4 separate regions of the Homo sapiens genome follow, and regions 2, 3 and 4 are each linked to region 1. Evidence: fine-mapped expression QTL. A gene starts in region 1. Each other region holds a variant in brackets. All regions are shown on one strand. Distances are between the middles of the regions.

Region 1 (8,000 bases):
GAACTTATTATTATCCAAAACTATCTATCATGCTTATATGAGGTAAATATTTTTCTTGAAATACACAAAATGTTTACGGACACAAAGAAGGTTTGAGAAAATGCCCCAAGATTGATCAACACATGAAATAAATTTTTTTATCATGAACTCATTCATATATGCTTAGAAATAAAGGCCGTTCTTCCTCATTGTAAAGGAAATGCAGAAATCTTCCCCAAATGATTCAGATACTTGCTTCAATTCTACCATTGACCATAACTAGTCTCATATGCCACATGATAATATATGTCCAAACTCCAGTTTGTCATTTTGAAGAAAACTAGAGCATTTCTCACTACTGAAAAGAAAAGCTATCAGTGAAAATGAAGTATTAAGGTATTTAATGTATCCTTAATATAACTAAGAAAGGATTTAGAATATTAGGATTTATTCAGCAAATGTCAGGTTGGAATAATAAAACTTAATTTCTTAAACTTTTGAACTTTAGTTTTTGCTTTTGTTATTACAGAATAGTACCTAACAAGTCACTCTTCTATGGTAGTCTCTTGAGATGTGTTACTTTTTAACTAAAAAAAATTAAATTCCATATAAGCTACATATAACTTTAGTGACTACAGGATATGACAATGAGCATCCAACCACTTCCAAATTTACACATATTCAGTAATAAATTTAAAATGGGCTTCTTGCAGAAATAGGATCTTTTTCCATGTCTCATCCTATCAAAGAAAGTGTTGGCCTAAATCTATTTGGAAGCATTTTGGTACTTGAATTTGATATGCTCTTTGCGTAATAAAGGGATTATGCTGCCCACTCCCTAGTGCCGGAAAGAGCAGTTTGGGATGTCTGTTCAGCGATGTGCTGTCAACACAAACCCAGTTCCACACTCTTTAGAGGGAGTACTAGGTTCAGATGCTCACAAGGCACTATTGAATTCACAATAACAAAACAGCATCTAAATACTTTACATGAGCATATCAGACGTACTAGATCATCTCAATCAGTACCTGACGTTGTCAGGCTTTGAAAAGATTTTTTAAAGTTCTGAAAGTAAGCCAAGGATGTCATTTAGACAAAATATATATTCATTTAATGTAGTTTCATGTTGTCACAGGGTCACTTCAGATTCTTTTGGAATCTGAACTATGTGATTAGATTCAGAACATAATAGACTAGATCACTTTTAGATAAGCTAATTCTAACTAAACCCTTTAAAACAGATATATCAAATACATCTGTTTTAGGTTGCTTTAATGAAATACATATAAGTAGCAATGTGGCCAAAAGGTTGGAAACTAAGGTGAGAGATAAAAAATAGAAAGTCAAATGCTAAACTATTCACTATCTTGAAAGAAAATAATTGGAAAAGGCTAAAAGCATCAGTCCAATGGTTCTTTTTCCACATTTCTCATCTTGTAAGTTTTCTGTGATCCTTCAGTTTTGTTAGTGTTCCTGAGATACTGTGTATGTGCTGGAGAAAATATGTTATACAGCTTTTCTTTTAAATTAGGAAACAACCAAAAACCCTCTAGAGGTTAAAAAACCCTTCATAGTGTTATATATGTTTCTTTGTCATGGGTTCAACAAGAGATTTTTACAAAATGATATGGAACTACTACAGTTAATGAAATAAAAGATATAATCCTTCAATCTACAAACTCTATGTAGCTTCTAAAAGGCTTAAAAAACATAAGTTGCTCTACGTAGATGATAAATCTAAATAAAGACTATTAGAAACACGAAGACAAATAATTTTGAGACTCGCTGCTAAGAAATCCTTCGGCAAATATCGCTAGAAAATAAAACCACATGGGTGATTTTAGAAATTTAAAATTTCTTCCTGTACCATATTAATTGTAAAGATACTATTCCAGTGGTTGAAATCTATTTATGACTCAGTTCTCTGGAGTAAGCCAAAAGACCACAGTTATCATGCTAACATTAAGAAGGACAAAAAATGTCTGTGGCCAAACCGGACATGTCAACAGACTCACCTTGGGAGGCCTGGCTACTTGGTGTGTGTGATTAACTATACATGCCTGACTCACACACACAATTGGCAATAGTGCCAATTCCTGCAACCTGCTTAGAGAGCAATTTGTCAATTTCTACCAAAATTAAAGCTGTACATACCTCTTGACCCTGCTAGGACTTTGACATACAGACATATCCATAAAGGTACCAAGGGACAGACAGACAGAGAAGCTACATCTAAACTCACAGACATACTCTGTCACATGTGTAACAGCAAAACAAAACAAACACAAAACAGCTTAAGTGTCCATCAGTGCAACACTGGTTAAATAAATCATGATCTAGTCATACAGTGGAATATTATGAAGCTGGTAAAAAGAGTGAGGTAAATCTACAAGTGCCAATTTGAAATGTATTCAAAAATACATTTTGTGAGTAAATCAGAGTGGAAATCTGTGAGTTCTTAACTTTGCAAATAAAACAAGATCTATTAGCATGTGTGTTTTTGTGTAAGCATTTTTTTTAACCTGGAAAATTCTTAAGAAACTGTTAACATGGTCCCTCTGTCGAAAGAGATTTGTGATGAGGGTTTGGAGAGACCTTTTTAATGATGTCTCAACATTTTAAAAGAGCCCCTTTCTCCTGCTGACAATCTGATGAAATCCAGTGGTGGGCTCTGAGCACCCAACAGCCTCTATCCCTTAGACTAAGCCATCAGGTAGTAGCTAGTGCTGCCTTTAGGTCCGATAACTGCATAAGTAATAGAAGTGCCCATCCTAGAGCCTCAGGTCACTCACCCATCTTCAAAAGGTCACCTCCCCCACAGCGTTTCCTGAAGCTCCTACCCCTGGAGAAGGAATTTGCCACTCCTGCCTCCGTTTTATTGGGGACATTTTCTGCAACGCTCTAAGTGCAGACAATTGGTTTATCTGTTTCACTCTGTTAGACCAGAAGGCTTCTCAACCCCCAGAACTCTTAAATAGTTATCCAACGACTACCAGATACAGTCATTCGGCTATTTGGTTCTAAACAAAATCTACGGAAAGGTCCAAGTGAAACGGCACACATTCCAAATTGTCCTGATTTTAGGCAGCTGCCCGATCTTGTGCCAGATGATACAGATACTTTTTGAGTAGGTTTCCCTGGACTGCAGTTGCCCGTCCAGGAGCAAGAATTCGGTTGGACAAACAAGCAAACAAAATAGATAAAGCAGGCGCTGTGTGGGCGCGTCATTAGTAGGGTCACCTCTTGGATTGTGCACACACCCCAAAGCTTGCAACCCCCACGCTTTCTCCAAACCAAGGGCTGCCCCCAAGGAAACCTCCAGCCGACCCCCGCCCGCACGTCGGAACCCCTCCAGACCCGCGAGCCCCCAGAGTACCTTAAGCGATTCCTTGAAATCCTCCGTGTCGTCCGGCACATCCTCATAGACAACGCCCTGGGGCTCCTTCTTTTCTCCAGGGCGCCACATCTTCCTCAGGCTGCGCTTCATTGACCCCACCCCGGACGCCACCTGGTGCAGCTGCTCACCACGCGCGCGGGCACCTGGGGCGAGAGAGCGCTGTCAGCCTGCCAGGCGCTGGGGTCCGCGCGAGCCCGAGCTCTCCCGCGCTGCAGCTCACAGGCAGCGAAAAAGTCGCTCTGCGGAAGCCCTGGAGAACTTCTGGAAGGAGTTCTCAGGCCCGCGCTACTTTTGTAGTGCAGGAAGCAGGCGGGGCGCGGAGAGGAGGTAGAAACGCGGAGCTCCTTCGCAAAGAGGGCGGCGGCGCCGCGTCTGCCTTGGACTCGCCCCTTCAGGGACAAAGTGACTCGCCCGTCCCGCTGTCCTGCAGCTGCAGCAGCGCACTGACGGAGTCAAGCGTGTCAGGTCGGGGTGGATTGCAGAGAATTTGTTATAATAAACTAAGAGGCCCCTTGCCCTGCCCCCCAACCTTGCATGTGAGTGTGTGTGTGTGTGTGTGTGTGTGTGTGTGTGTGTGTGTGTGTGTGTTGGGTGGAGGGTGGGGGGTGTAAAGAGAGAGGAAGAGGGAATGACTGGGTATATTGGAAAGATTTTTAGTTTTCAGGAGTTTTTTCTAACTAAAATCCTACAGACCTGTGTTTCCCACCACGTGCACCTTCTTCTGGCGGCCTCTTTGATTTGGAAATAACGTTTTTAACAAAACTTCTCATTCCAAACGTTTGGGACAATAGCTACATCCTAGCACTGGTTTGAGGGACTAGATTAAGTCCCTGTGAATATCAGGTCTCATTTCCTGTGGATAATAACAGTGATCCCCCTCACACTTTGGTGTTTAAGGGTGGTTAATAAAAAGGTGAGGTTAAACGTAAGCCACTGCTGACTGGTGCAAGTTTGTTTGCCCCCAGCTTCATTTGAGAGACTTATATTTATAGGACTGCTCTTCATTAAGTGTCAATCGAAGTGTCTCAATCGAAGAGGCTGGTTCTACTTTTACGTACAGACAAGGGAACTGTCTGGTACAGACAAGGGAACTGTTGCCGTAAGTTCAGGTTTACAAGGCTAGAACGCAAGAAACCTTTCTAAGGCTGATTATACCTTGCACAGGACAGAATGTAGCTTTGACAGTCTTTTGCTTTGACAGACGGTGCTTCCTGAAGGCCCTGGATTGTCGTATTCACCTGCTCATCTCCAGCACTTAACTCAAGACCCCCGTGGATCCAGGAACTGGCATAGGTGCACTCAGCAACGGTTTGTGGACTCTCTGACCTAGGGGCTGTGGTGGGCTGAGCTTAGGGCTAGGCAGAGTGGACATGATGATATTGAGGAACCATGAAAGGTCCCCCTAAATCTTCCAATGGATATGGCAGGTTGCCATCAATTCCACCCCTGGAGTGGAATTCCTTGGAAGGATAATATTGAACTTAACCACATCATGAGTCCATGAGTATGGCTTGCTGGAGGATACAGGTGTTCAACTTCACCTTTGCACTCTTTTCTCATCAGCATCTGTGTTCAGGGTATGCAAGATAAGAATCAGTTGCACAACTTGCTATGATTTAGTTGAAGGAGGTAATGCATTTGGAGAAACCAATAAAGAAAAGAATCCCAGGGTTGGGTAAAAAGAATAACTCTCATTGAGCCATTGCTGCCTACCTGATATTTTCCATATACCAGTTTAATGTTTTAAAATGGAAATGCCTCATAGGAATATTAAGACTTTTTATTTTTTATCATTGATTATTTTGATCGATTGCTTTTCTCACAACACTTAGCTGGAAAGGGTCACTAAGGCAAAAACTGAATAAAGAGGATGTTCGAAGTGATCATTTTGGAAGCTGGGGCAGTGGGCATGTCATGGCAGCAAGCATCAGATGGCCCTGTTGGCCCCGAGAGACAGGGGGTGACAGGGGTGGGGGGGGGGGCAGCGTGGGCCAGTGCAGGGAACTCCAGCAATGGATGGTTGAGGGGAATTCTGGGAGAAGGGTGGCTCCAGGCCAACAGCACCCCTCCTTTGTAATATCCCCTGGAGTCTGCATTCTTGCTTCTCTACCCCACTGACATTCTCCAAAGCATGTATTCTTTTTAATTTGTCTTCTCTGTCTTTAACACTGAAAAATACAGTTGGTTAATATTATAGATATGATTTTTTTCCTGCTTTCTGCTTATAAAAGCAAATAGATTAAAAGATAGTTTAATTTTTAAAAAATATTATGGGGGTCTTGTTCCTTTTAGGCATTTTTCAGGCAGTGTCTTCCTAAGACCTCTCAGGAATTCCCATGACTGTTTCTTCTTAATCATTAAATTATTTCCTACCCATCAAAAATATCTTTTTCATAGGCAGGCAGGGCAACTTCCTCTAATTGCAAGATTAATTGCAAATCTTGGTCTTAAAATGCAAAATGTAAACAGGAACAAGATGGTATCTAGCTATTTACAATCAAGATCTTATTTCATTTGAAGTTTATTGATGAATAGCAGTAATGTGCAAGCTTTTTATATCAGTTATACTCTTAAAATGATACTTATTAGAGAAAAGAAACCTTCCTAGAAATTTTCTGAAGGTAATTTTTATTATCAAATTACAATTTGACATTACACAGGACCTTATTCAAGAAAATGAAAAGTAATAATAATAAATAATTTTATTTAAATTATCAAGGAAAATATAGTTATATGCACATATTGCTCAATAACATTTTATGAAAAAAATCTAAATTACCAAAATTCTCCTTAATTATTTTGTTCCTTAAATTTAAAAATGTTTTGTTTATAAATTAATTATAAAAATATTTATTTTTAAAGTCACTAATCCAGATATGTTATTAATGAAAAGGGGCCCAATATACATGCTAAGGAAAATAGCATCTTTTATGAAACAAAACATAAAATGCACCCATGGAAAGTGCACAGTTTGATGACTTGTAGTAAATTTATACAAGTATACAACTATCTCCACAATCCAGTTTTAGAATATCTCCATCAATCCAAAAAGTTTCCTTAGACCCAGATGCAGTAAATCCCTCCCCAACCCAGACCCCTAAGCAACCTTCAATCTGTCTTTGGAGCACACTTTCTATCTCTATAGTTTAGCCTTCTCTAGAAATTTCAGATACATGGAGTCATACACTATGTAATATTTAGTATCTGGCTTCTTTTGCTTAGTATAATACACTTGAGATTAACCCACATTGTACTATATATCAGTAGTTTCTTCCTTTTTATTGATCAATAGTATTCCATTGTATGGGTATACCATGTTTTCTTTACCTATTTATCAGTTGGTAGACATTTGAATTATTTCCAGTTTGGGTCTATTATAAATAATGCTGCTCTGAACATTTTCATACAAATCTGTGGACATACATTTTTATTTCTCTTGTTTAGAGAGATACCTAGTAGTGGATTTGCTGAGTAATGTGATAAGTATGTGTTTAGCTTTGTATGAAAATGCCTAATTACCTTCCAAAGTGGATGTACCATTTTATATGGCCTCCAGCAGTGTATGAGGATTCTACTTACTCCATAGCCTCACAAAACTTAGTATTGTCAATCTTTTTTTATTATGATCATTCTAATGGTATATACCATTGAGTCTCTAATTAGTATTTCCCTAATGGCTAATGATATTGTCCATATTAGCATGTCTTATTATTCACTCATATATTTTCTTGATGAAATATTTATTAAATTCTTTTGCCTCTTTTTAAATTGCGTTGTCTTCTTACTATTAAATTGTAAGAGTTCTTTATTCTAAATATAACTCTTTAAACAGATAAATAATTTGCAAAGTTTTTTCAGAAGCTGTTATTTCTCTTTATTTTCTTAATAGTGCCTTTTGAAAAGCAAAACTTTTAATTTTGATAAAAGTCTAATTTGTTAATTTCCTATATTGTGTTTTGGGTGCCATAGAAACTTTTGCCAATTCAAAATTAAAAAGCTTCTCTTCAGTATTTTCTTCTAGAAGTGTCAGCTCTTAACTAGATCAATTTTGAGTTAATTTTTTGTTCGGGTTGTGGGGTAGAGGTCTAAGTTCATTTTTATTGCATATGGATATACAACTGTTACTAGTTGTTAAAAAAACTATACATCCCTCATAGAACTGCCTTCAAACCATTGTCAAAAATCAATTGACTACAAATGTAAGAGTTTGTTTCTAGACCCCTATCTTCTTCCATTGATTAATATCTCTATATTTAAGCCAATACCACATGGTCTTGACTTATATATTCAGGTTATTAATCTCTTGTCAGATGGGTAGTATGATGGTTAATATTAGGTGTCAACTTGACTAGATGGAAGGATGCCTTGATGGCTGATGAAGCATTGTTTCTGGGTATGCCTGTTGCATTTAGTCTATAGATTGATTTGGTGGGAAGGGCCATGTTTAAAATATTGAGTCTTCTGATCCATAAACATGGTATATTTTCAGTTTATATATATCTGTCTTGATTCTCTCAGCAGTGCTTTGTAGTTTTCTATGTACAGTTCATGCATATTTTTGGTTAAATGTATTCCTAAGGATTTTATTAATTTTAAGCTATTTTAAATGAAATGATTTTCTTAA
Region 2 (8,109 bases), 220 kb before region 1:
CTACATAGAATAGGTGGGTAGACATGAGTTACTAGAATCAACAGAAATGGGAAATGTGGGGAATAACCATTCTGGAGAATATAAAAAGAGTCTAAGTAGGGGTAAGGAAATGTATTTCAAAACAGTGTTAAGGGCTTTGATGACATTGACTGATGAGCACTTATACCCATTAACAAATGTGAAGTTATCTAGCACAGTGATTCACATGGAGTGGTTTTCAGCTAGAAATAGCTGAATCTTAACAAATTAACCTGTTTATATTTTCAATAGCAAGAACTTGCAAGAATGAACTATTTATGGGACCATTAAGTTTTGATGAGGTAGAGATGCAATTTAGGAACTTGGAGTTCAGGGGAAATACTCTTGGAGATTTAGATGAAGATTCTACAGTTGGGGACCCATGGTATGCAGGAGGGAGGCAAAATGAAGCCATACTTTTAACTCTTTGGGGTAGGTGGAGAGGGAAGGATTTGCAAAGTTGCAGTATCACTATATTGCAGAAATGTTGGGGGTGCCACTGACAGAATATAATATGGAGTGATCTATATATTTCTCAGATCTTTCAGTTGTGCGTTATCTATGTAAAATGGACTTAACGACAAAATACATGAATGCATGCATACACACAGACATACATGCAAACTATTTTTCAAAACTTAGGCTCTCTGGAGATATTAGCAGATTTCTTTCAACATATTCCATAGGCATTTGGAACACAGCAAATTTAGGGTATTTTAAATCAATAATAAACTTATGATTTCTTCATTTTTGCTATAGGGAACTCATTAACATGTAGTTTAACAGGGAGAAAAAGCAGAGTATGTCAGATTGCACCCCCATACCCTTATATTCTCATTTTAAACATTAATATCCCCCATATTTTACAGATAAAGATATTGGAGTTAAGAGAGATGAAGTTCCTTGCTGAAGAATACAAAGATAATTGAAGAGGAACTCAGATGTCTAGAATGAGAGTCTAGTGCTCTTGTTGCTATATCATGTCCATTATGGTTAATTTTATGTCTCACCTTGGCTAGGCCATTGTACCCAGATAGTTGCACAAACAGTATTCTAGATTTTTCTGTGGAGTTTTTTTTTTTTTTTGTATGAGATATAAATTTAAATCACTAGACTTGGAGTAAAGAAGATTGCCTGCCGTAATATGAGTGGGTCTCATCCAATCAGATGAAGGCCGTAATAGAAAATGACTCACCTTCTAGGAAGAAGAGGGCATTTTGCCAGCAGACTGCTTTCAGACTAGAACGCAGCTCTTCTCTGGTCTCCATCCTGCCAGGCTACCCTCCAGAGTTTAGACTTGCCATCTTCCACAATCGTGTGAGCCAATTCCTTAAAATAAGTCTCTCTCTGTCCTCTCCTCTCTGACACACACACACACACACACACACCCCTTATTCATTGTGTTTCTCTAGAGTATCCTTACTAATACAATGTTCTTGGACAATGCATGTGAAATACTAGAGAATTTAATAAGCAGGCTAAGCTACAATGCCAGGCACTCTGTGCTTAACTCCAGAGTATTTAAAGTGATAGTAAATCTTCTAGTTCTTGATATTTAGCATTCGTTTTAGAAGTCATAGAAAAATAAGCTTGACCAGGGAGGAAAATGTTACAAGTAACTTTTATACTTACTTGTGACACAAAACACATTAACTTTTTATATTTAATTCTAATGTTTATACTACTTGGTTGAAAAATACTAATTTTAATTATAGTATTTTTGCTTTGATAATCATTGAACCTTTCTTTTAATTGAAATATAATTCTCATACCACAAAGTTCATACTTTAAAGATGTGCAGTTAAGTGATTTCTAAGTATATTCAAAAAGGTTGTGCAACCATCACCACTCTGTAATTCCTAAACATTTGTATCATCCCCAAACAAAACCCCATAACCATTAGCAGTCATTTCCCGTTTCTCCCTCTTCCAGATCCCCTGGCAACCACTAGTTTATCTGTCTTTGTAGATTCATCTGTTCTGGACATACTACATATATAATAATATTCCATTGAAAAACTTTCTATATAATAAGCCACAGACTTTTAATGCCTTGTTTCTTTTACTAAGCATAATGTTTTTTAAGGTTCATTCATATTTTAGCTTGCTTTTGTATTTCAATTTTATGTGACTGAATTAATATTTCATTATATATAATTATATATAACATACATATAATGATATATATATATACACACACCAAATTGTAATTATTTATTTATCAATTTATGGGCACCTGGGATATGTCCAATCTTTGGCTATTATGAATAATGCTGCTATGAATATTCATGTACAAGTTTATTGTGAACATATGTTTTCAACTGTCTTGGGTATATACCTAATAGTGGAAATGCTGGGTCGTATAGTAACTCTATGGTTAACTATTTGATAATCTATCAGACTATTTTCCAAAGTGGCTATACCATTTTACATTCTCAGCAGCAATGTAGTCTCTCCACATCCTTACCAATACTTGTTATTGTTCTTTGTTTTGATTATAATCATCGTACTGGGTGTGAAAGTTATATCTTATAGTGGTTTTGATTTGCATTTCCCTAACAGCTAATGAAGTTCAGCATCTTTCAATGTACTTGTTGTATATTTATCTATCTTCTTTGCAGAAAAGTCTATTTAGATATTTTTCATTTTTAAATTAAATTTTTTGTCCTGTTGTTGTTGAGTTATAAATGTCATTTATTATTTGTTGAATGTTTCCTCCAAATTGTATATGTCACAAACTTAATCCACAATGTGGCAGTATTGAAAGGGCCTTTAAGAGGTAATTGGATCTTGAAAGCACAGCTTTCATGAATGGATTAATCTATTCATGGATTAATAGATGAATGGGATAATGGGTTAATGGGCATGGAACTGGTGGCTTTGTAAGAAGAGGAAGAGAGACCTGAGCAAGGTTCAGCCCCATCACTATGTGATTCCAGGCCTCAAGATTCTTCAGAGTTCCCATTAGCAAGAAGGCTCTCACCAGATGTGGCCCCTTGACTCTGGACATCTCAGCCTTCATAACTATAAGAAATAAATTCCTTTTCTTCACAAATTACCCAGTTTCAGGTATTCTGTAATGAGCAGCAGAAAATGCACTAAAATACTCCCTCAGTTTTTGTTAATATAAGGATGTCTTAATTTCTTACTTAATTTTGAAGGATAGTGTGCTGAAATAGGATTATTGGTTGAAAATTTTTTTCTCTCAGCACTTTGAATATATTGCCCCACTGCCTTCTGGCCTTTAAAGTTTCTGATGGGAAATATGCAGGTGGTTTTATTGAGGATCCTTTGTAAATGATGAGATCCTTCTGTCTTGCTGCTTTCAGGATTCTCTCGTCTTTCTCTCAAAAGTTGTATTATTATGTGTCTTGGTGTGGATCTCTTTTAGTTCATCTTACTTGGAGTTTGTTGAGTTTTTTAGATGTTTGTATTCATTTATTTCATCCCATATGGGAACTTTTCAGCCATTATTTCTATAAATATTCTCTCTTTCCCATTCTCCATTCTCCTTATAGAAATCCCAGAATACATGTATTCTGTTTGATGTTGTCCCCCAGATCCCTTAGGCTCTGCTCACTTTTCTTTAAGCATTCTTTTTTCTTTTTCTTTTTAAGAGACAGTTTCACTCCGCCTCCTAGGCTGGAGTGCTGTGGCATGATTATACCTTACAACAGCCTCAAACTCCTGGGATCAAGCAGTTCTCCCACTTCAGCCTCCCTAGTAGCTAGGACTACAGGCATGTGCCACCATGTTCAGCTAATTTTTAAAATTATCTATAGAGGTAGGGTCTCACTAAGCTGCTCAGGCTGATCTCAAACTCCTGATCTCAAGGGCTCTTCCTGTTTTGAAGTGCTGGGATTACAGACATGAGCCACTGTGCCCTGTTTAAACTTTTTTTCTTTTGTTCCTCAGATGAAGTTGATTTCCATTGTCCTATCTTCACTGATTTTTTTTTCTGCCTGCTCAAATCTGCCTTTGAATCCCTCTAGTGA[AT/A]TTTTTTTTTTTACTTTAGTTATTATACCTTTTAGCTCCAGAATTTCTCTTTGTTTTCTTTTTAGGTTTTCTATCTCATTGTTGGTATTGCGATTTCCCCATAAGAAATGTATTACTTGTATTACTTAGGTTTTTTGTTTGCCATGTTTTCATTTTCTTCCATAAAGGTATTTTCTAATTTTCTTTGTGATTTCTTTACTGACCCATGGGTTTTTAAATGATTGTGTTGTTTAATTTCCATAAATTTGTGAATTCCCCAAATGTATTTCTCTTACTGGATAAGTATTTTGTATTATTTCAGTCCTTTTAAATTTACTGAGATTTGTTTTATGGCCTAGAATAGGGCCTATCCTAGGGAATGTTCTGTGTATACTTGAGAAAAATGTATATCCTACTGCTGTGGGGTAGAGTGTTCCTCCAATGCCTGAAAGGTCTGCTTAATTTATGGCTTCCACTGTGATTGTAAGCTGTCAGTTTTCAAGGCTACTATGGAGCTGGAAGAGAAGAAGGGAATGGGAGTAGGACAAGTTAAAACACAGCAAAGCTTACTGTTCTTACTGATATTCAGCTGTTTTTCTTCAAAAAAAAAATACCCAGATTGCTGCAGAACTTTGGCTAATTTCTAGCATTCTGAAAATGTTGATTCTGATAATTTTGTGAGTTTTCTCATTGCTTTCATGGGGAAGATTATTTTCGCAAGTCTGTCATTTTTGCGGACATCACCTTGTCTTCCACTGAATCTTGATGTATATTTTATATATCATGAGGTCCAATTAAAAGAGCAGTAAATTAAGTACCAGTTCTCTACGTGTAGGAAGGAGAATGTTAAGAAGTTTCACATATGTTAAGAAGCTCCATATTTAGTCTTTTCTGAAGTTTCCAATTTTCACTGGCACAAGAATGAGGCAGAGCAGAGGAACCACTGGGATTCAGCAAGATTAGCTTCACATTGCTTGTCTACCACATTCTCCTATGTAAACCACACTCCTGTGCATTTATATTCTTGTCTCTCCATCTTCCTCAATAGCTTGTTTCTGACTAGTCTTTCCATGACAGAGGCTGAGTCATTCCCTTGAGAGAATCTGGCCTAAGAACAGCTGTGTCTGAAAGGCTTTCCTTCTGTATGCAAAAGGAAAAGCTAATTAGAGGGAGGGGTGGGTTTAACTGTTTGTATCTAGGATGATGACAGGTTGATATCTTCTAATCCTTTTGTAAAACAGTTTTTAGATCAATAAAAATAAATAGAATGTATTTAGTTTCTTTATTCTTATCCTTTTAGTACTTTCACATAAAAAACACAAGCCTCCCACTACGACCAAGTAGAAGTAGTCAATTAGCATATATTCTGTCAATGAATTCTGTGATGAACCCAGTTAATTTAACTCTTTAAGCAAGGACATAGTGAGTACCTAGTATGGACTAGGCATATGATTAAATTTCTGCTGCCATTCTCCCAGAATTTCAGAACTCTCCCATTCCTCCTATATCCTGCTTGTGAACCGACTATAGAATTAGCTTTATTTTTACTGTCCCTTACTTCATTCATAAACACAGGACAAAGTGATCCAGATGTCATACAAAAATCAATATTGTTTCTCTCTCCCCTTCTTTCAAACTCTCACTCTCTTTTTCTCTCTTTCACACACAGTGAAATGAAAAAACTACCTAAAAATAAGAAATGTTAGGTGAAGATAGTTTTTTTTTAGCTCACACCACTTCCTAGTCTTAGATAGGGCAACTAGAGAATGGCCATCTGTTATTTCTTTCTCTTCTTCATTGGCCTTGCTCACCATACAGAGACATGTTCCAACACTACTTTGAGATATTAAGATTGTGGGGAAATTTTCCTTTTGAAAGAGTTTACCTCTATATCAAATATGTGCAAGATATAATTTTCAAAATTATTTTATCAATTTACTTTGTAGAGTTCAGAATATCCTGGTTTAGTATTGGATTGCCAAGATTGATATCCAAGGTTTGCCTATTTACTTATTTCATCTTTGTATATAAGCCAAAATATTCTATATGCAGCTTGATACTCCCAGTTATGTGGGGGAGGGTGGGAACACTGACAGCTGCCCAGAACTGCTGCAGGGGTGGACGACTGGATGCAGGTGCACAGACTATCTCAATTTGACAGGCTTTAAGGCTTACATTATCTCTAGTGATATCCAATATCCTGTACAATGAGGTCCATAAAAACAACAGAAGCAACACAGTTATACATATTCACCAGAGCATATACCACCACAATATTTACTCAGAGCTACACAAAGATAATGTGTAATTTTTGTGATCATTAAGTTTACAGTGTCACAGCAGGTTAGAAATTAAATCATGCATCTGACATTACGATACTTTGTTAACTGCGGTTTTCTTTTTTGTCTATACTCTGTATACTACATAAAGATTAGAAGTCTTAAGTTTTCACAACAATTTCTTGCCAGAGGAGTGCAAATAAGTGCTGGAGGAATTATTTCTCTGGTTATATTTTGAAGCTGTAGAATGTTAGTGTGTCTCTCATTTTGAGATTCTATTCTCAGTGTATGCTGATCTAGTCCTGTTCTGCAACTAACTAGATCATGGACAAGTCTCTTGACCTCTGTATCTCTATTTCCTTGAATTTAATTGAATTAGTATTTCCTGCCCTGGAAGTTATCACAAGGTGGTTTTGAGAATGAAGTGATAAGAATGCATGTGAAAGTAATTTGGAAATGACTATTAGAGGTAGATAAGAGTGAAAACTTACCTCTCCTCCTTGCTAGGTTCTAACCTACAGAGAGAAGTACTAGTCAAATGGGGGCTCAAATTATCATCTTTTTAGGCAAAGAAGTAGTCAATAGAATTCAGGGATCCGAGAAAAGTAGATTAGAGAATGTGACTTAGATCTAAGTCCAAAAGTAGGTCCCCTTCCCCCTAGTCCAGAGAAAAACCTCTGTATTTTCAAAGTAAGTCAAGGGTTCTGTGCAGCCTTCCAGTCCACCTATGGCAAGTTCAAGGACTGCTTCTGAAAGGCAGGAGGAACTGGAATGCAGAGAGAACAGCATACCTCCCCACTGAGCTGAGCAAGCCCTCCCAAGGTGGGTTAGTACTCAGAGACATGAAATGCAAAGGTGTGCACCAGGGAAGGAGAGGGATCTTACTGCATGAGCACAAGACCATCAAAAAGAATTATATTTTGTGCTACCAGTGAGCAGTACCCTGTAATCCCATCAAGTAGGGAAATAGGCTCTAGTGGAAGTGAAGCTCTTACCAAACAGATTAGCACCTCCCTTTCTTGTGAGGAGGAACAAGCAGAAGAAAGAGACTGGAGTGATGACTTCATTGCTTTCTGGAAGAGATTGGGAGCTTCCCCCTCTATGTATGAATGTGTGAAGAAGAGCAAGAGTCCTCCTCCCACACAACCATTGGAATGAGGTATGCAAATAAGTATGCAAATAGGGTTTGCTTTATAGGGTTTGTCTCAGTGAAAAGTCCAAAGAAATTGGTTATAGAAGGTGCCTTAAAGGTCACTTAAATATTCCCCTCATTTTATAGTAAGAAGGGGCCAAGGGCAGGTTGGTCACTAGCTCAGAAATTGACTAATTCTCAGAAAGAGGAATTGGTTCAGAAAATAGAACCCACACCAGGTGGGTAGGACTTTGGTGGGGGCCCTGGGCTGCCAGAAAGCAGCATAAGAACACTGGGTCCTCTGGGGACCCAAGGGAGTTTGCTCTTAAACAGGGGAGGGGAGAGCAGAATGGATGTAGAGGAGAGGAAGATTATAAATTTGTTTAATGTAATTTCCTATAAATATTAAATTACACCACTGATTTAGATAATCAAGATAATATCAGGTCATAAGCATGGTTTATGTTGTATAAATAAGGAATATGTATTTCTTTCTTCCTCCCCTTTGAAGGCTTGTTTTCTTCTTTGTAGCATTTACCCTCCACTTATTACGATGGGAACAGTACTAGGCTTCCATCTGGGAGCAGCCACTCTCATTCCACGTGGCAAAAGTGGGGCTGGCCCTCTCCCAAGGCTGTTGGGAAGTCTGCTGACTAAGACCTGGCCATTCAGAACACTTCATTTCTCTGACCACAGGAACTGGTTT
Region 3 (8,156 bases), 63 kb before region 1:
TTAACCCAAGGTACTTCAGAATGTGACTTTACTTGGAAATAGGGTCATTGCAGATGTAATTATTAACAGTTAAGATGAGGTCATTAAAGTGGTCTCTAATCCAATATGACTGCTCTTCTTATAAAAAGGGGAAATTGGGGTACAAAGGCAGACACACGCACAGGGACACACACACACACACACAAACACACACACACAGAATGCTGTGTAGATGAAGGCATGGATCCAGGTGATTCCTCTATAAACAAAGAAACGGCAAAGATCGCCAGCAAATCACAAGAAGCTAGGAACGAGGTTTGGAGCAGATTCTCTCTCACAGCTCTGAGAAGGAATCAAGCCTGCTGACATCTTGGCAAGCCTCTAGAACTCTGAGACAATAAATGTCTGTTATTTATTTTCTAGCCTTAGCAAACCAATATACAATCTTAGCCAATTAAAGGCTGACTAGAATAACCTTAGCTTAATCTAGGGCAATTTTCACACCATTCAGACAGCAGAAACTACATACACATATCCATGTACCCATCTGAACTTCTGTCATAATTTCTCAGTCTATCAATTTTAGCAGTGTGGCCAAATGTCAGTTTCTCTGGAATGCCAAAATAAGGGAATTTTGTTGTGGCTGTCCTATGAAAATGAAGCTCTGTCACAGAGAAGTGTGTGAGCCAAATCCAAATACTGAGTTTATTTTACTGTCCAAATAGAATATTTTCACCCCAGTGAAGCAATTGTAAGCATCTCATCCAAAGCATATTCACTATCCTTGAGTATTCTTGGTTGCTTATTGAATGAATAAGTGAATGAGGTGGATTTGGCTGACACTAACCTTTGGGATTACCTCACAGCTTGCCAGTGGCAAGCTTAGTAAGTACTGGGCCATAGTGTTTGAGGATAGGTCTCTAGAGTCATATGTCTCTAAGTTCAAATGCTAGCCTCCTGTATTAGTCTGTTTTCATGCTGTTGATGAAGCCATACCCAAGACTGGGTAATTTACAAAATAAAGGGTTTTAATTGGACTTACAGTTCCACTTCACTGGGGAAGCCTCACAATCATGGTGGAAGGCAAGAAGGAGCAAGTCACATCTTACGTGGATGGCAGCAGACAGAAAGTATGAGAGCCAAGCAAAATGGATTTCCCCTTATGAAACCATCAGATCTTGTGAGACTTATTCACTACCATGAGAACAGTATGTGGAAAACTGCCCCCATGATTCAACTATCTCCCACTGGGTCCCTTCCACCCACAACATGTGGGGATTCAAGATGAGATGTGGGTGGGGACACAGCCAAACCATATCACCTCCTTTCCTAGTTGCTTGGTTTGGAAGAGTTATGTAATCTTTTTGAGCTTCAATTTCCTCATCTATAAAATAGGGAAGATGCTAGTTACTCTCTTATAGGGTAGTTATGATTTATTTTATGTGAAATGTTTAGAATGGTCCATGCCATGATGTACTGCAGTTGGTTTGTACTGGCTCACAATGACCAATAGTACACCTTTTTTCTGATTCTGCCAATCTTCCCATCCTCACATCCAGTGACATCATATTGGTAGTTTGAAATTAATTGGCCATGGTGAGAATATTTACACTACAGATATTTGCAAATACTATACAACAGGGGCTAGCTTGCCAGCACACCGTTGGTTAGATGACATCCGTAAGTTCTGTATAAATCTTAACATTATTATTACTCAGTAGGTACTCCTGCTCCCTTATGGTTTTGAGAAGGCCTTCTTCTAGTTAAATAAATCATTTTGAATTAAAATAACACTGATGGGACTCTTAGCAATGTTTTACCTCTTGGGAATCACTGCCTACATTTGTGGTCTATAAATCTGAATCCTTAATTCACTCGGATTGATTTTTGGCTCCGTGAAAGCAGGAGCTTTTCTCACTGCTGTAGCCCCCACACATGGCACAGGCCTGGGACAGAGTAAGCACTCATAAGTATTTGTTAAGTGAAAAAATAAATGAATGAAAGTATCCCAAACACTTGCATTTTCAAAAGGTTTTGACATCCACTTCCTTTTCTTCTCAAAGCTACGCTTTGAGATGGATAGGTCCTATTTTACCTCTATTGCATCGATGAAGAAACTGCAATGCAAAGAAGTGTCTAATTAGTCATTTGCTTCCTTTCATCAAATATGTCCATTACACCAGTGTTTCTCAAAATGTGTTCCATAGATCATAAATCCTGAAGGATGTTAATAGTTATTATGTGCCAGGGGACCCGTGGATATATAAGTTTGGAAAATAGTGAAGTAAAAAAAAAAAAAATTGGTTTACTTACTACAAGTTTTCTCAGAGCCTTATTAAGCCAATGTGCATTGTGAACACAGGAGGTAGTGGAGATAGTTAAAGTATGCAGCATTTTCTATTTTTGACTATAGTTTGCTTGATTGATTTTTTTTTTTTTTTTTTAGACAGAATCTTGCTCTGTTGCCCAGGCTGGAGTGCAGTGGTCTGATCTCAGCTCACTGCAAGCTCCGCCTCCCGGGTTGACGCCATTCTCCTGCCTCGGCCTCCTGAGTAGCTGGGACTACAGTTGCCTGCTACCACGCCCGGCTAATTTTTTGTATTTTTAGTAGAGATGAGGTTTCACCGTGTTAGCCAGGATGGTCTCGATCTCCTGATCTTGTGATCCGCCCGCCTCAGCCTCCCAAAGTGCTGGGATTACAGGCGTGAGCCACTGCGCCGGCCACTTGATTGATTTTAAATGAAGCATCCAGCAGTGTTAGTGTGAAACTTCATTAGGTAGTACTTTTCAGACCTTAACTTGCATATGAATTGCCAAGGGAACTTACTAAAATGCAAATTCTGATTTAGGAGGGAAGAGTGCCTAGGGCAGGGACCTGAGATCCTACATTTCATCTTCTTTTTTCTTCTTTTATTTGAAACAAGGTCTCACTCTGTCATCCAGGCTGAGGTTCAGTGGCATGATCACAGCTCACTGGATCCTCAAACTCCGTGGATCAGATGATCATCCCACCTCAACCTCCCAGGTAGCTGGGACTACAGGTGCATGCCACCACACCTAGCTAATTTTTTAATTTTTTTGTGGAGACGGGGTCTTGCTTTGTTGCCCAGTCTGATCTTGAACTCCTCAACTCAAGGCAATCCACCTGCTTCGGCCTCCCAAAGCTCTGGGATTACAGGCGTGAACCACCATGACTGGCCAGAGATCTTGTATGTCTAACAGGCTCTCAGAGGGTGCCCATGCTGCTGGCCCACAGGCCACACCTTGAATAGCAAGGCACTAGAACATACAAGAGTCAAGAAGAAATGGCATCTTATTGAAAGACCAAATGAGAACACTAAAACACCCTATTGACCCTCAGGACCAGCTGTTAAAGAAGCATGTTGTTCAGAGGGGTGAGGAAATAAGGGACAAACCCCCATATGATGAGCAAGTAATGAAGGAACATAGAGCTAAACTAAATAGCTGGAGTAGGGCAGGTCTTTTCAGCTGAAGTCTAGGTGGTGAATTAATTAGTGAAGGGACACAGAGATGGCTAAAGGGACCCTTGATTGCTTTGTGGACCAAAATAGCTTCATTTTTGTCATTAAAACCTAGGTTCAAGGAGAAGAGGGCAAGGCCCACTATTGGTTCAGACTTAGTTATTGTTTTCCTTCTCTATCCACAAACTCAAGTTCCATGAGTTACTAATTTTTTAAAAAACTTTTTAATTATTCAAAATGGAATATGAATGTTAGAAATTGGAAGGGAAAAATGGGGACTGACATAAAAAGAGGTTAACCTGGGTCAGGTGAGGAAGTAACGCTATACAATGTATTCAGCTATTTAAAGGCTTCAGAAATGCTCGTATCTTTTACAGACTGATCTTCCTGACTTCATCTGGTCCCTGCTTTGACCTGGAAACTTAGCTTGGGTACCTGTGTTTCTCCAGCAGTGGCTGTTCTCTGCTGGTGCCTTGTCCTAGCAGACTCTTCTCTCCTAGTTCCTTGGCAACAGTGTTCTAATAACCTTTGCGGGTCACACAGTTCCTAAGTGTGGAGCTGGGATTAGGCTAATGGAGGTGTTATAAGACTCTCCAACAATATATTCATCAATGATTCACTTCTACTAATTATAACTCGACATATTTTGGTAACTTATTGAAAGCAAAAAGGTTAATAACTCATGACTTCCTTGTAGGTCAAATCTTTGTCCGTGTAAAGCAATAATTTTGCCTAATTTTATATTTTTTCCCTTGCATTCTTTGGGTTAAGTTCATTTTGTCACTCCTGCTCTTTATATTTGTATATTTATTTGTTCATCTTTCTATAATACTAGTTTAGATTATTCTCTAGCGATTACATTTTTTTAACCCAGAAAGGAAGTATTGTGTTTTTTACTGAAGTTTAGATTGGTTGTCAGAACTCATAGATTTTATTTTACTTGTGTAGTCTTGTTCATGTTTTTGCATTTTTGTAGGTCTTGATGTTTTCTTTTACTTAATTTTTTAAGCTTTTCTTATATTGCCTGTTTTGTTTCTTTTTATCTTTTTTCCCATGTACTAATACATACTTATTTTGTTTAAATTATATTCTTGATTTCTGAACAATTAAAAAAAGAAATTATCCACCCTATATTTTTTAGTTACAAGTATGTTATGAAGCAGTATCTTTAATTTGAATAGAATTGAGTCCTTGCTAAGAAAAATGAATGAGATAAGGTATTTCATCTTCTGTTCACCACTCGTACCTGTGAAAGCCAAACAGCCTGACTTTTTATAGCTGTCAGTGATCAATACTGAAGATATAATCTGTCATTACAAAGCAGCTGGCTTGGGCTTTGAAATGTAAACAGTGATAATTTATGAACGGGTTAGTCATTTTCCCATAAACATCTGCCCATGTACCCTGTGTTGTAATACATTCATGCTATTGC[G/A]TTCCTTGTCTGTTGTAACATTCGTTGATTAGTAAATATTTATAGATGTCTCTTGTAACAAAGTTTGGCTTTGGGCATGATCAGTTAAAAATAAATTTTAAAATATCATAAAACAACTATGTAGTGCCCAAGAAGACCTTAGAAAATATTCTTTTCTTCATGTTTCTGCCCTGTGTTGTATTGGTCTTGTCTTATCTGGTAGAATTGTCATACATGTCAAATGGGGAGCCTCATTATGATGAAAAATGAAACAAAGGGTGCTTTTTTTCCATTACCCTATACCCTGAAATAGCCAAAATATACACATATGGCACCAGAAGAACAGGGAGTTTGCCTTTTTCTAGCTTGTTTTAAAAGTGCAGTGCAGACAAGCTAAATCCAGCTGGGAATTCTGTGGGTCACACGCATTAGGCGGTGCAGAATTGAAACCTCTGTCTAGAGCAGACTCTCAGAAGATTTACATGCAAGGTTAAGCTAGCATATTTTTGTTTGTGTTGCCTTAAATCTTCTCCTTTGAAGGTTATGATAGCTGCTCAGTGACTAAGTGGTTATTTTTTTAAATCAGTGATACATTCGTTGTTTAGAAGGTATCTAATACTTCTTGTCTTAATAAAAATGTTAATAACAGATGAAACTCTGTATATTAGCATATCTCAAGTGTATAATCCTAGTTTGCTATTTACCCATCTGATTTGTGTAACATTATACTGTCATTTAAAATATACTTTTAAAGCCAGATTTTACATTTCAAGTTATCTTTAGTAATAACTCTCAGTACACTCACTTGTAAATAGTTGCTATAAACTATTCACTTGTAAATAGTTGCTTTTCAGACTGTAAAAATATATTTACTCATCCCTGTAAGCTTAAATTTTGCAGCTAATTACTATTTTCTGATACTTTATGTATATATACATATATTTTTTCTTGAAAATTATTTCCAAAAATAATTATTTAAATGCAAATCATAACAATAAATGAAAACATTTAAAACACGTACTTATTTTTGTAATTGCCATTCTAAATAATTTAATCAAAATACCCCCATTCTGATTTCTTTCCCATTCATCTTTTCCAAGAAGTTAAGAACCTGAATTTTAAAAAACACTGTACCCAAGCAGCAAAACTGTGCCAAACTTGAAAGGCCGACCCCACCTTTTGGCTCTATTGACCCTAATACTTTTCCAATTAAAGAAAAACTTAACAAAAAATAGAATGCAATGACTACTTTAAGCCACTTGGCACTTTGGGGCTTTATTCTGTTTTCAAACTGGCATATGATAATTGAATTTTCTTGGGGAAAACTCAAAGCAGCAATCCAGCTTTTTCGAGATACTCCACTTGATGAATCTCCACTCCCAAAGAACATCAGTGAAGCCCTCGTGGTATTATCTTTGTTAACAAAGAGTCACCACATTTTGATGATTCTCATTCTAAGTGCTAAGACTTAAAATGGCAATATAAAACATAGCTCAAAATGTTTTAGTAGAACTTAGCTTTATCTCTTGTTGACTTTTCTTTACAGTTAAAAAATATAGAAACCACTTTAAAAGCATGCAAAAAAAAGCATGTCCCATAAGCAATTTACTTCATATTGTGAAATTAACATGTTCCATATTTCAAAGGTTTGACAAAGCTCTGTGCGTTGTCATTGACTAATTGATGGAAACTTTCAAAATCTCTGATCCTCTGGCTGGTTATTTACTGACAGTGTCCTTTATGGGCTTGTGTCTTCTGCATTTCAAGGACTCATGTGGCAGCATAGAAACAAAGGATGTTAAAAGGTACAGTCAGATCCTGCACACTGGGTGTTAAGTTTACAGTAATTTGGATGAGTGAAGGGCCATTTCATTATCTTATCAACTGAGAAGGAATGGCAGAGCTGACCACTAGACTGGGATGCTATAGAGGTTTTAGGGGCACAACTTGGTTTTATACTTGGGAATGAGACAGGAGTTCAGCAGGACTTGTTTCACAAGATACGAATCACAAAGACCTTGCTGGTAAAACAGGATGCAATAAAGAAGCCAGCCAAAATCTGCCAAAACCAAGATGGCAACAAAAGTGACTTCTGGTCATCCTCACTGCTCATTATATGCTAATTATAATACATTAGCATACTAAAGGAAGAGCCCACTGGTGTCACAACAGTTTACAAATGCCATGGTAACATCTGGAAGTTAACCTATATGGTCTTTCAGTGGGAGGAGCCCTCAGTTCTGGGAATCCCCTGCTCCTTTCTCAGGAAACTCATGAATAATCCACCCCTTATTTATCATATGATCAAGAAATAACCATAAAAATAGCCAATCAGCAGCCCTTAGGGCTGCACTGCCTATAGAGTAACCACTCTTTTATTCCTTTACTTTTTAATAAACTTGCTTTCACTTTACTCTATTGGCTTGCTCTTGAATTTTTTCCTGCAGAAAGCCAAAAACCCACGTGGCCTCCTGGGGTGAGTCCCACTTTCAGCATTTGCCCTGCGACAAGTAAAAAGACTATTTGATTTAATAAATCCTCCATCTTATTTAAATTTGGGTGATTTTAGCATATTTATAATTGGGAAAGTTTTCAAAGTGATACAGGATGGTGATAAATGCACACATGTTTACAATTCAGTATTACAGCTCTCCAAGAGTTTTCTGGTTTCTTTTACCACACTCAGAATTTGAAAGGCAACCATCTGGGTCATGAAGATGCTTGCTGATCAACTGCTGGGGTAGAAGAGACTGCTGCAGTAGAAGAGACTTTAAGTCCCTTGCTGAAGACTGCAGTCTGGCTTACTGGTTTTAGTTATTTGCACTACCTAACCTGTATCTCAAGGACTGTGGACACCATACAACATCACAGAAAACTTGATGCTTGGAGGTTTATCGGATTATGAAAGATGTTGTGTCTGCCTGTGGTATCCTGAAAGTACAGATACCTGCAGTCTTGAACCTCAACTTCTGGATTATTTCGATTATGAATTCTTTAGACAGTTTTTTTTCTTTTTCTTTTTTATTTTTGAGACAGGGACTTGCTCTGTTGTCCAGGCTGGAGTGCAGTGGTGCAATAACGGCTCACTGAAGCCTTGACCCCGCTGAGTTCAAGTGATCCTCCTATTTCAGCCTGTTGAGTAGCTGGGACTACAGGTGCCTGCCACCATGACAGGCTATTTTTAAAATTTTTGTAGATATGGGGTCTCACTGTATTGCCCAGACTGGTCTCGAACCCCAGGACTCAAGCAATCCTCCCACCGTGGTCTCCCAAAGTGTTGGGAT
Region 4 (8,156 bases), 250 kb before region 1:
GTAACCAAAACAGCATGGTACTGGTACCAAAACAGAGATATAGACCAATGGAACAGAACAGAGCCCTCAGAAATAATGCCGCATATCTACAACCATCTGATCTTTGACAACCCTGACAAAAACAAGCAATGGGGAAAGGATTCCCTATTTAATAAATGGTGCTGGGAAAACTGGCTAGCCATATGTAGAAAGCTGAAACTGGATCCCTTCCTTACACCTTATACAAAAATTAATTCAAGATGGATTAAAGACTTAAATGTTAGACCTAAAACCATAAAAACCCTAGAAACAAACCTAGGCAATACCATTCAGGACATAGGCATGGGCGAGGACTTCATGACTAAAATGCCAAAAGCAATGGCAACAAAAGCCAAAATTCACAAATGGGATCTAATTAAACTAAAGAGCTTCTGCACAGCAAAAGAAACTACCATCAGAGTGAACAGGCAACCTACAGAACGGGAGAAAATTTTTGCAATCTACTCATCTGACAAAGGTCTATTATCCAGAATCCACAATGAACTCAAACACATTTACAAGAAAAAAACAAACAACCCCATCAAAAAGTGGGTGAAGGATATGAACAGACACTTCTCAAAAGAAGACATTTATGCAGCCAAAAGACACATGAAAAAATGCTCATCATCACTGGCCATCAGAGAAATGCACATCAAAACCACAATGAGATACCATCTCACACCAGTTAGAATGGCGATCATTAAAAAGTCAGGAAACAACAGGTGCTGGAGAGGATGTGGAGAAATAGGAACACTTTTACACTGTTGGTGAGACTGTAAACTAGTTCAACCATTGTGGAAATCAGTGTGGCGATTCCTCAGGGATCTAGAAGTAGAAATACCATTTGACCCAGCCATCCATTATTGGGCGTATACCCAAAGGATTATAAATCATGCTGCTATAAAGACACATGCACACGTATGTTTATTGTGGCACTATTCACAATAGCAAAGACTTGGAACCAACCCAATGTCCAACAATGTTATACTGGATTAAGAAAATGTGGCACATATACACCATGGAATACTATGCAGCCATAAAAAAGGATGAGTTCATGTCCTTTGTAGGGACATGGATGAAGCTGCAAACCATCATTCTCAGCAAACTGTCTCAAGGAGAAAAAACCAAACACCACATGTTCTCACTCATAGATGGGAACTGAACAATGAGAACACATGGACACAGGTAGGGGAGCGTCACACACTGAGGCCTGTTGTGGGGTGGGAGGAGGGGGGAGGGATAGCATTAGGAGATATACCTAATGTTAAATGACGAGTTAATGGGTGCAGCACACCAACATGGCACATGTATACATATGTAACAAACCTGCACGTTGTGCACATGTACCCTAAAACTTAAAGTATAATTTAAAAAATATATTGTCTTTGTTTGTGTTTCCATCAATAATAGCATAATTTGGCTTGAGTGAAGAGTGAAGGTGGAGAAGGTGAGCAGAGCACGATACTGTTTTGCCTATTCTCATCTTAAAACACAGATTTGAATCATTACACGTGTGAAATGCAGGCTTTCCATGGGAAGAAGTAGAATGGTTCTTGTATTTCTGGAAAGACACAGCAAGTGAATCTGCTACTTTATAGCTTTTTTTTTTTTTTTTTTTTTTGAGACCGAGTCTCACCCTATCGTCCAGGCTGGAGAACAATGGGGCGATCTTGGCTCACTGCAAGCCCCTCCACCCAGGTTCAAACGATTCTCCTGCCTCAGCCTCTCGAGTGGCTGGGATTCAGGCACCCACCACCAGGCTCCACTCATTTTTGTATTTTTAGTAGAAATGTGGTTTCACCATATTGGCCAGGCTGGCCTCGAACTCCTGACCTCGTGATCCACCTGCCTCGGCCTCCCAAAGTGCTGGGATTACAAGCGTGAGCCACTGTGCCTGGCCTATATCTATCCTTAAACAAAGACAAGGCCTGGGTTTAACACTTGCATGAAATGGAGAGAATTATAATAATCTTCCTTATTTATCTCGCAGAGGACTTGTGAAGCTCAGATGAGATGCTCATCTCAAGCTCTTCGTTGAAGTAACCACCACTTCCAAAATCCCCTCAGAACTATAACACTGCCTGCAAATATAACGGATCCACAAGGCAACAGAGAGCTACACCTTTGGATCTCACAAATACAGTAGTGGGGAACCACCCAGAGCTGTCTTCTGGAAGAGCTGTGATGACAGTAGCGCTGTTGCAGTTACTACAAGGGACCTGAGAAGCCACAGATGGCCCACAGGCAGAAGTGGTGGCCGTGCAGGGGATGCCCCTGACACAGTGACACATGTGCAGAAATCCAGCTTATCGGCCCTCTTGGATTCCCTCTTGCACAGTATTTGCTCTAGAAAGACTCCTGCCACCAGCTGCTTTCTTGAAGGTTGTAGGGGAAAAGGTTCCCTGGACCCCCCCTACACACCATCACCATTGGTACAGGGGGATTGCTGACACCTCCCCAAGGATGTCCTGAAGCTGTGACCAGGTTCCATAGGGAGTCTGCACTCATGGCTTTCCTTCAGGCTGTTTCCTAAGGAATCTGGAATAAGTCAGAGCATTTTGATGTTAAGGAACATGAGGTCTTTGAGAAGGCGTACAACCCCGATCCTTGTATTCATGACCAGTGACCTAAACCACTCTGGCTTGAGGAAAGGACAGAAAGTAACCTCAGGGTTCATCTCTGCTCCCTAGTCGGGTGCCGTGCCTCACGCCTGCAATCCCAGCACTTTGGGAGGCCGAGGAAGGCAAATCACTTGAGTCCAGGAGTTTGAGACCAGCCTGAGCAATATAGTGAGAAGCTTGTCTCTACAAAAAATAAAAATAAACAACTAGCGTGGTGGCTCATGCCTGTTGTCCCAGCTACTCAGGAGGCTGAGGTGGGAGGATCGCTGGAGCCCAGGAAGTCAAGGATGCAGTGAGCCATAATAGTGCCACTGTACTCCAGCCTGGGCAACATAGGCTTAACCCTGTCTTAACAAAAAAAAAAAAAAAAAAAAAAAAAAAAAAAAAAAAAAAATCTGCAGCCTGAGGGTTTGCTGCAACTTATATATTTACCACGAGATGGCGCGCTAATGACGTCTTTTTATTACTGGGACCGGCTGCGTGGCGCTCAATTATTTTTCCTATTGAATCCTGTGGAAAGTGCTGGAGCTGCAGAGAGGTCCCCAAACAGCAGAAACAATGAGCGTGTAAGTACTTAATATAGTGGGGAAATACCCATTGACATATATTTACCGCCCTTGAATTTGGGTTTCAAAGGACTCATTTTTTTGAACTTGGTTACATCATGAAATTCACCTAACATAAAAATTAGCTCTTAAACACAGCTGATGTCAATGGGTAACTTTTCCCGGGGAAGCAGATGCTGCCCGGGTTGTGTGCAGAGCGCCATCCTGGAGGAGCCGGGCTGCAGGGAGCTCCTTGAGGAGCCACATCCAGACCTCTAGCACTGAGTTATCTTTGCCTCCGCTTACCTTCTTGTATCTGCAACAAACCTTTTTAACGTATTCACTCTTGCTTTTCTCAGTTTTTGATAATCAGCCACCTTGCTGTAGTAAAGGATCACACTGTGGAATGCTAAAAAAAAATTGCCATTTTAAAGTAGACAATTTACTGGCATTTAGCATATTCCCAATGTCACGAAATCACCATTTCTATAAGTTTCAAAATATTGTCACCATTCCAAACTAAAACCCCTTAGCTATTAAACAGTTTCTATGTTCCCTCCTTGAACTGGCAACAACTAATCTGTTTTTGTCCCAAAGGATTGATCTATTCTGAATATTTTATATAAATGGAATCATACAATGTGTGACCTTGTGTGTCTACCTGCTTTCACTTAGCATAATATTTTCAAGGTTCATCCATGTTGTAGCACGTGTCAGTGTTTCCTTCCTTTTTATGGTGAGAACTTCCAGTGCAGTGTTGAATAGTCATGGTGAAAACAGGCATCCTTGTCTTGTTCCTGACCTTATGGGGGAAAGCTTTCAGTCTTTCATATTGGGTTTGATGTTAGCATAAAGGCGTCTTATGGTGCTGGGGAAGTTGCCTTCTCCTGGTTTTCTGTTTTGTTTTGTTTTGTTTTTTATCGTGAAAGAGTGTGGGATTTTGTTAAATGCTTTTCTATGTCGATGAAGATGATTGTGTGAGTTTTCCCCTTCATTCTATAATGTGTATTACATTGACTGATTTTCTTATGCCACACCATTCTTGCATTTTGGGGCATATAGTACTTTTAATAACTTTTCTTTAAAAATGAAGATGTGTGTAAAGTATTGCACAAATATAGATGAGGTAGAATTAATTCTGCAGGTTAAGGCAGAGGGAGTGGGAAGGGTTTAGGGGAGGAAGACAAAGAGAAGTCAGCCAGTAAAAGACAGACCAGAAATGACCTTAAATGACAAGGGGATTTTTTTT[T/A]AAAAAGCCAAACTTTCAAGCAGCATCTTTCTCTAATCCAAGACAGATGAGAAGCCAGTTTCCAAAAATCCAGTTTCATTTTCCTTATCTTTAAAATGATTAGATTATTTTGATTTTTATTGTCATTGCTATAATTATAGTTTCTTATCCTGTTTATTTCATAAAATTTTCCTAGGTATTGCATAATTTGGGGCCATAATTTTACATTGTTGCACAACAGTCCCGGTTAGGTAATTACAGTAACCATATAGTCTTTGTTTTTTATTATCTTTAGAATGCCATGATAAACCAAAGTAGATTACTTATGAGATACCTTCTAGCTCTAAAGTTTTGTGGCTTTATGATTCTACGAAATCTGTACCACAGATTCTTCCCTAACTGCGCAAATTCTACATCACAAATCCTAGACGGTTAGAAAACCTCTCTCTGGCAATTTCATTAAATCTACTGTACTTCTTATATGTTTCAATTCACACATGTTTTCTCTTTTTCTGTCTTTGGTGAAGATGGAAAAAAGTGGATCACTTGTTGTTGGTGGGAAATTGTTTGTTCCTATAACTCACTTAAGCAAGTATCTATTAAGGTCAAACAAAAATGATCAGCTCTTCTAGGCAGACTGGGGCTTCTCCTCGGTCATGGCATTTCTTGGCTCCCCTACCTCAGTTTCTCCCAGGAGCAGTTCTTTGTTCATCTTCAGATTGGCCACTCCCTGCCTCCACTGCTGGGCTCTCCAGGAGTATGTAATTTTGTGAGCTAAAAATCCTAAGTGAGAATAGATCTATTTTCTTTTTAGTTCAGCACATATAAATTGGGTGTTTTTCAAATCATCTTCATTATAAAATAAAGAGGAAAGCAAACCCAAAAAGAAACAAATATGTTTATAGACAAGTGCCACTCCCTGGGTTGCATTGGTGGGCACCGCCAAGGAAGCAGACAGCCTTGACTCCTTTCTGCGCTTTCGTCCCGTGTCAAGCCCTCGGAAGGAGGTATAGCTCTATGGCTCATCCGTTGTTCCGAGTTAACTCCTAAAGTTCAGTTAGTCTCATCGGTGGGCACCATCTTCCCACCAGCTTCCTTTCACCCCAGCAGACAACTTTTGGGGAGGCTCAGGGAATGGTTTTGGGTTCAGATTCTTAGCTAGAGAGAAATAGATTTAAACTCTGATTCCACCAGTTATTCCCTGTGTGGCCCTTGGAAGGTTATTGAAGCTTTGAGAGCCTGTTTTCCCACCCATAAATCAAGACTATCACAGGCCTATTCATGGGCCTGATCAGAGGCATTAAAGGGCTGATATCTGTAAAGCGTATAGCATGGTGCTTAGCGTGTTTACAGTATGAATTTGCCTCTTCCAATTTTAAAGCTTTACATTTTAAAGTACTTTACTGAACTCAGTCAATACTCTTCTTTTTCTGTCTGAGGGCTCCCTAGCACCATCAGATTATGTACAGCAGAAATAGTAGTGTCAAATGGTAGTGACTAATTAGACATACTTTCTTAGTTGTCTGTGATGACTACATATCTCGGGTGGTTCCAGGGTATGGACTTTCCCAAATCAAATCACCCTCGTTTTACAAGTGAGAAGGAATTTAAACTAAAGAGTAGCAATAACTATTTTCTATCAAGAGAAATTTATTAAATATTTATTGATCATCTGCTTTGTACCAGACAGATGGAGGTTGTAATTTCATAAGACACAAAATGAAAAATGATGATTCCTGCTCTGAAGATATTTAGAATCCAATGAAAGAAAAAAGGCATGCTCACATGCGATCAAGGCAAGGGCCCTGTTTCCAAGCTTTGTGTCTCTGAGCTGCACAAACCCCTTCTCTCTTTAAGCTTTCAGTTATGATTTTACCCCCTCTGAAAGAATCTAAGTCCCCAGAGTAAGACCAAATTTGATAAGAATCTGTATGGGCCAATGGATGGTAGAGTTCCCAAATGAATGGCAAAGTTTCTCAATTCTGTACTGTTTCAAACTTGCCCTTTTAAATTTTAGTGATAAATCATGACTCATGATGACTTTGCTATTCACTGTCTGGCCCGAATTAGAAACCTTGTAGTCATTGTGGCTTTTACCCTGGCTTTCATCACACACATCCAGTCTATAACCCAGTTAATTTGATTCTAGCAGTCAAAAGTCTCTTGGCTCTATCCCTGGTATTCCCACCACCATCGTCTCAGCCTAGGCCTCAGTTTCTTTTGCCTGGACTGTCCAACTTGTGCTCTGTTCAATCTATTCTGCACATTGCCAGACAAAGTAGCTTTCTATGAGTCTGTGCTCAGGTGAATCACATATCGGGATATGGGACAGGTTTAAAGGTCCGAGTATAGAAACAACAACAGTATATTTTGAGAAGTCTTGGAGAAAGGTGAAAATTGTCACAGGGAGATGTCCTAACCTAAAAAGGGAAAACTCACTAGATTCTTGAAACGATAGGTCAAATTTCAGCATCTCCTAGGTTGTCAGGAGTTTGAAGAAAACCAGTAGTTGTTTATATATTATACTTTTTCCTGAAGATTCTTTTATTTGGATCTGATGTTTTTCCACTATAATTTTTACTCTGGAGCAAACCAAACTCAATCATAGAATCTTTTTAAAAGGTCTGAACAGATCTTGTGTTTGGGTTTTTTTTTCAGACAGTCTCTTTCTGTCGCCCAGGCTGGAGTGCAGTGGCACGATCTCGTCTCACTGCAAGCTCCGCCTCCTGGGTTCACGCCGTTCTCCTGCCTCAGTCTCCCGAGTAGCTGGGACTACAGGTGCCCGCCACCATGCCTGGCTAATTTTTGTGTATTTTTAGTAGAGACGGAGTTTCACCGTGTTAGCCAGGATGGTTTCGATCTCCTGACCTCATGATCCACCCACCTCGGCCTCCCAAAGTGCTGGGATTACAGGCTTGAGCCACCGTGCCTGGCCAGGTTTTTAAACACTAATGAAAGTTTGTTTTGAGACTAGAACAGTTTTAAGTACCATCATTTCTGTGCTTATTTGGTTTCCATATAATGTGGAGAAGTTGTTTTCTACCTTTGTAAGATTAAATACTTATCACAGAAATGAAGAGTCTGTGGCAAAGTTTATCATCAACAGTGAAATCACGTAGAGATATTACAGATCTTCTGCAGAACAAGTCAAAAGACACCTGAATGGCTTGAGTTTCATCTGTTAGGTTGGTGCAAAAGTAATTGAGGTTTTTGCCATTGAAAGTAATGGCAAAAACCTCAGTAACTTTTGCACCAAACTCATAAAACATTTAAGTGTAGGTTGACTTTGTTCATTTTCTCAAGCTTTCAGCCTCCCCGTATTGTGATGTACTAGCAATAAAGGGAGACATAATCAGTGCTATTCTGAAGACCCACAGTAAGCAGGGCATTCATTTAAAACTATGGTGCAGTTAAGGCCCCATCCAGCCCAGACCCCTCATTTTAGGTGAGAAATCATAGTTGGAAGAGGGAGAGACTGCCCAAGGCCACCCAACAAGTCAGGCTCTGAGAACGCCCCACTTGCAACCCCACGCGGGCTCCGGGGCACTTGGCCAGTGTGCATGGAAAACAGCTGCAGAGAAATAGCTGTCATGGTGCCAAATTCTTATCTGCTGGTGTCCTTCAGATTGGGTGGGCTGGATGCCAAGGGGAAACTCAGAGTCTGTGAATTCTAATCCTGGACCTGCTAGTAAACAGTTCTGGTCATAGGGTCTTAAATTTCCCTCCCTTTGTCACAGGCTGTTG

Direction of the effects. Alleles are on the strand shown, and positions count from the first base shown. SD is a standard deviation of normalised expression in the study named. Not every link is listed here.
For the expression in prefrontal cortex of the gene that starts at base 3,641 in region 1, AT is the high allele of the variant in region 2 and A is the other (small effect, 0.38 SD a copy in CommonMind).

Evidence for each region. PIP is the estimated chance that this variant, and not a neighbour inherited with it, causes the effect.
Region 2: its variant is fine-mapped to the expression of TRPA1 in prefrontal cortex (CommonMind, PIP 0.95).
Region 3: its variant is fine-mapped to the expression of TRPA1 in monocytes after Pam3CSK4 (Quach 2016, PIP 0.95).
Region 4: its variant is fine-mapped to the expression of TRPA1 in monocytes after Pam3CSK4 (Quach 2016, PIP 0.95).

Annotation. Positions count from the first base shown.
Region 1 is chr8:72,071,944-72,079,943 of GRCh38, forward strand. TRPA1 (transient receptor potential cation channel subfamily A member 1) reads right to left here and starts at 3,641. Exons shown (of 27, transcript NM_007332.3): 1 at 3,356-3,641. The coding sequence starts at 3,466. RefSeq lists an enhancer at 3,446-4,017.
Region 2 is chr8:71,853,279-71,861,387 of GRCh38, forward strand. The region is part of intron 2 of MSC-AS1 (MSC antisense RNA 1); the gene reads left to right. Among named protein-coding and RNA genes, the nearest start is that of MSC, 13 kb to the left of the region's middle. The variant AT/A (reference allele first, on the strand shown) is at 4,013.
Region 3 is chr8:72,009,329-72,017,484 of GRCh38, forward strand. All of the region lies in intron 4 of MSC-AS1 (MSC antisense RNA 1), which reads left to right. Among named protein-coding and RNA genes, the nearest start is that of TRPA1, 62 kb to the right of the region's middle. The variant G/A (reference allele first, on the strand shown) is at 4,894.
Region 4 is chr8:71,825,011-71,833,166 of GRCh38, forward strand. No RefSeq gene overlaps it. Among named protein-coding and RNA genes, the nearest start is that of MSC-AS1, 14 kb to the right of the region's middle. RefSeq lists enhancers at 2,297-2,356, 5,531-6,730, 6,307-6,486. The variant T/A (reference allele first, on the strand shown) is at 4,434.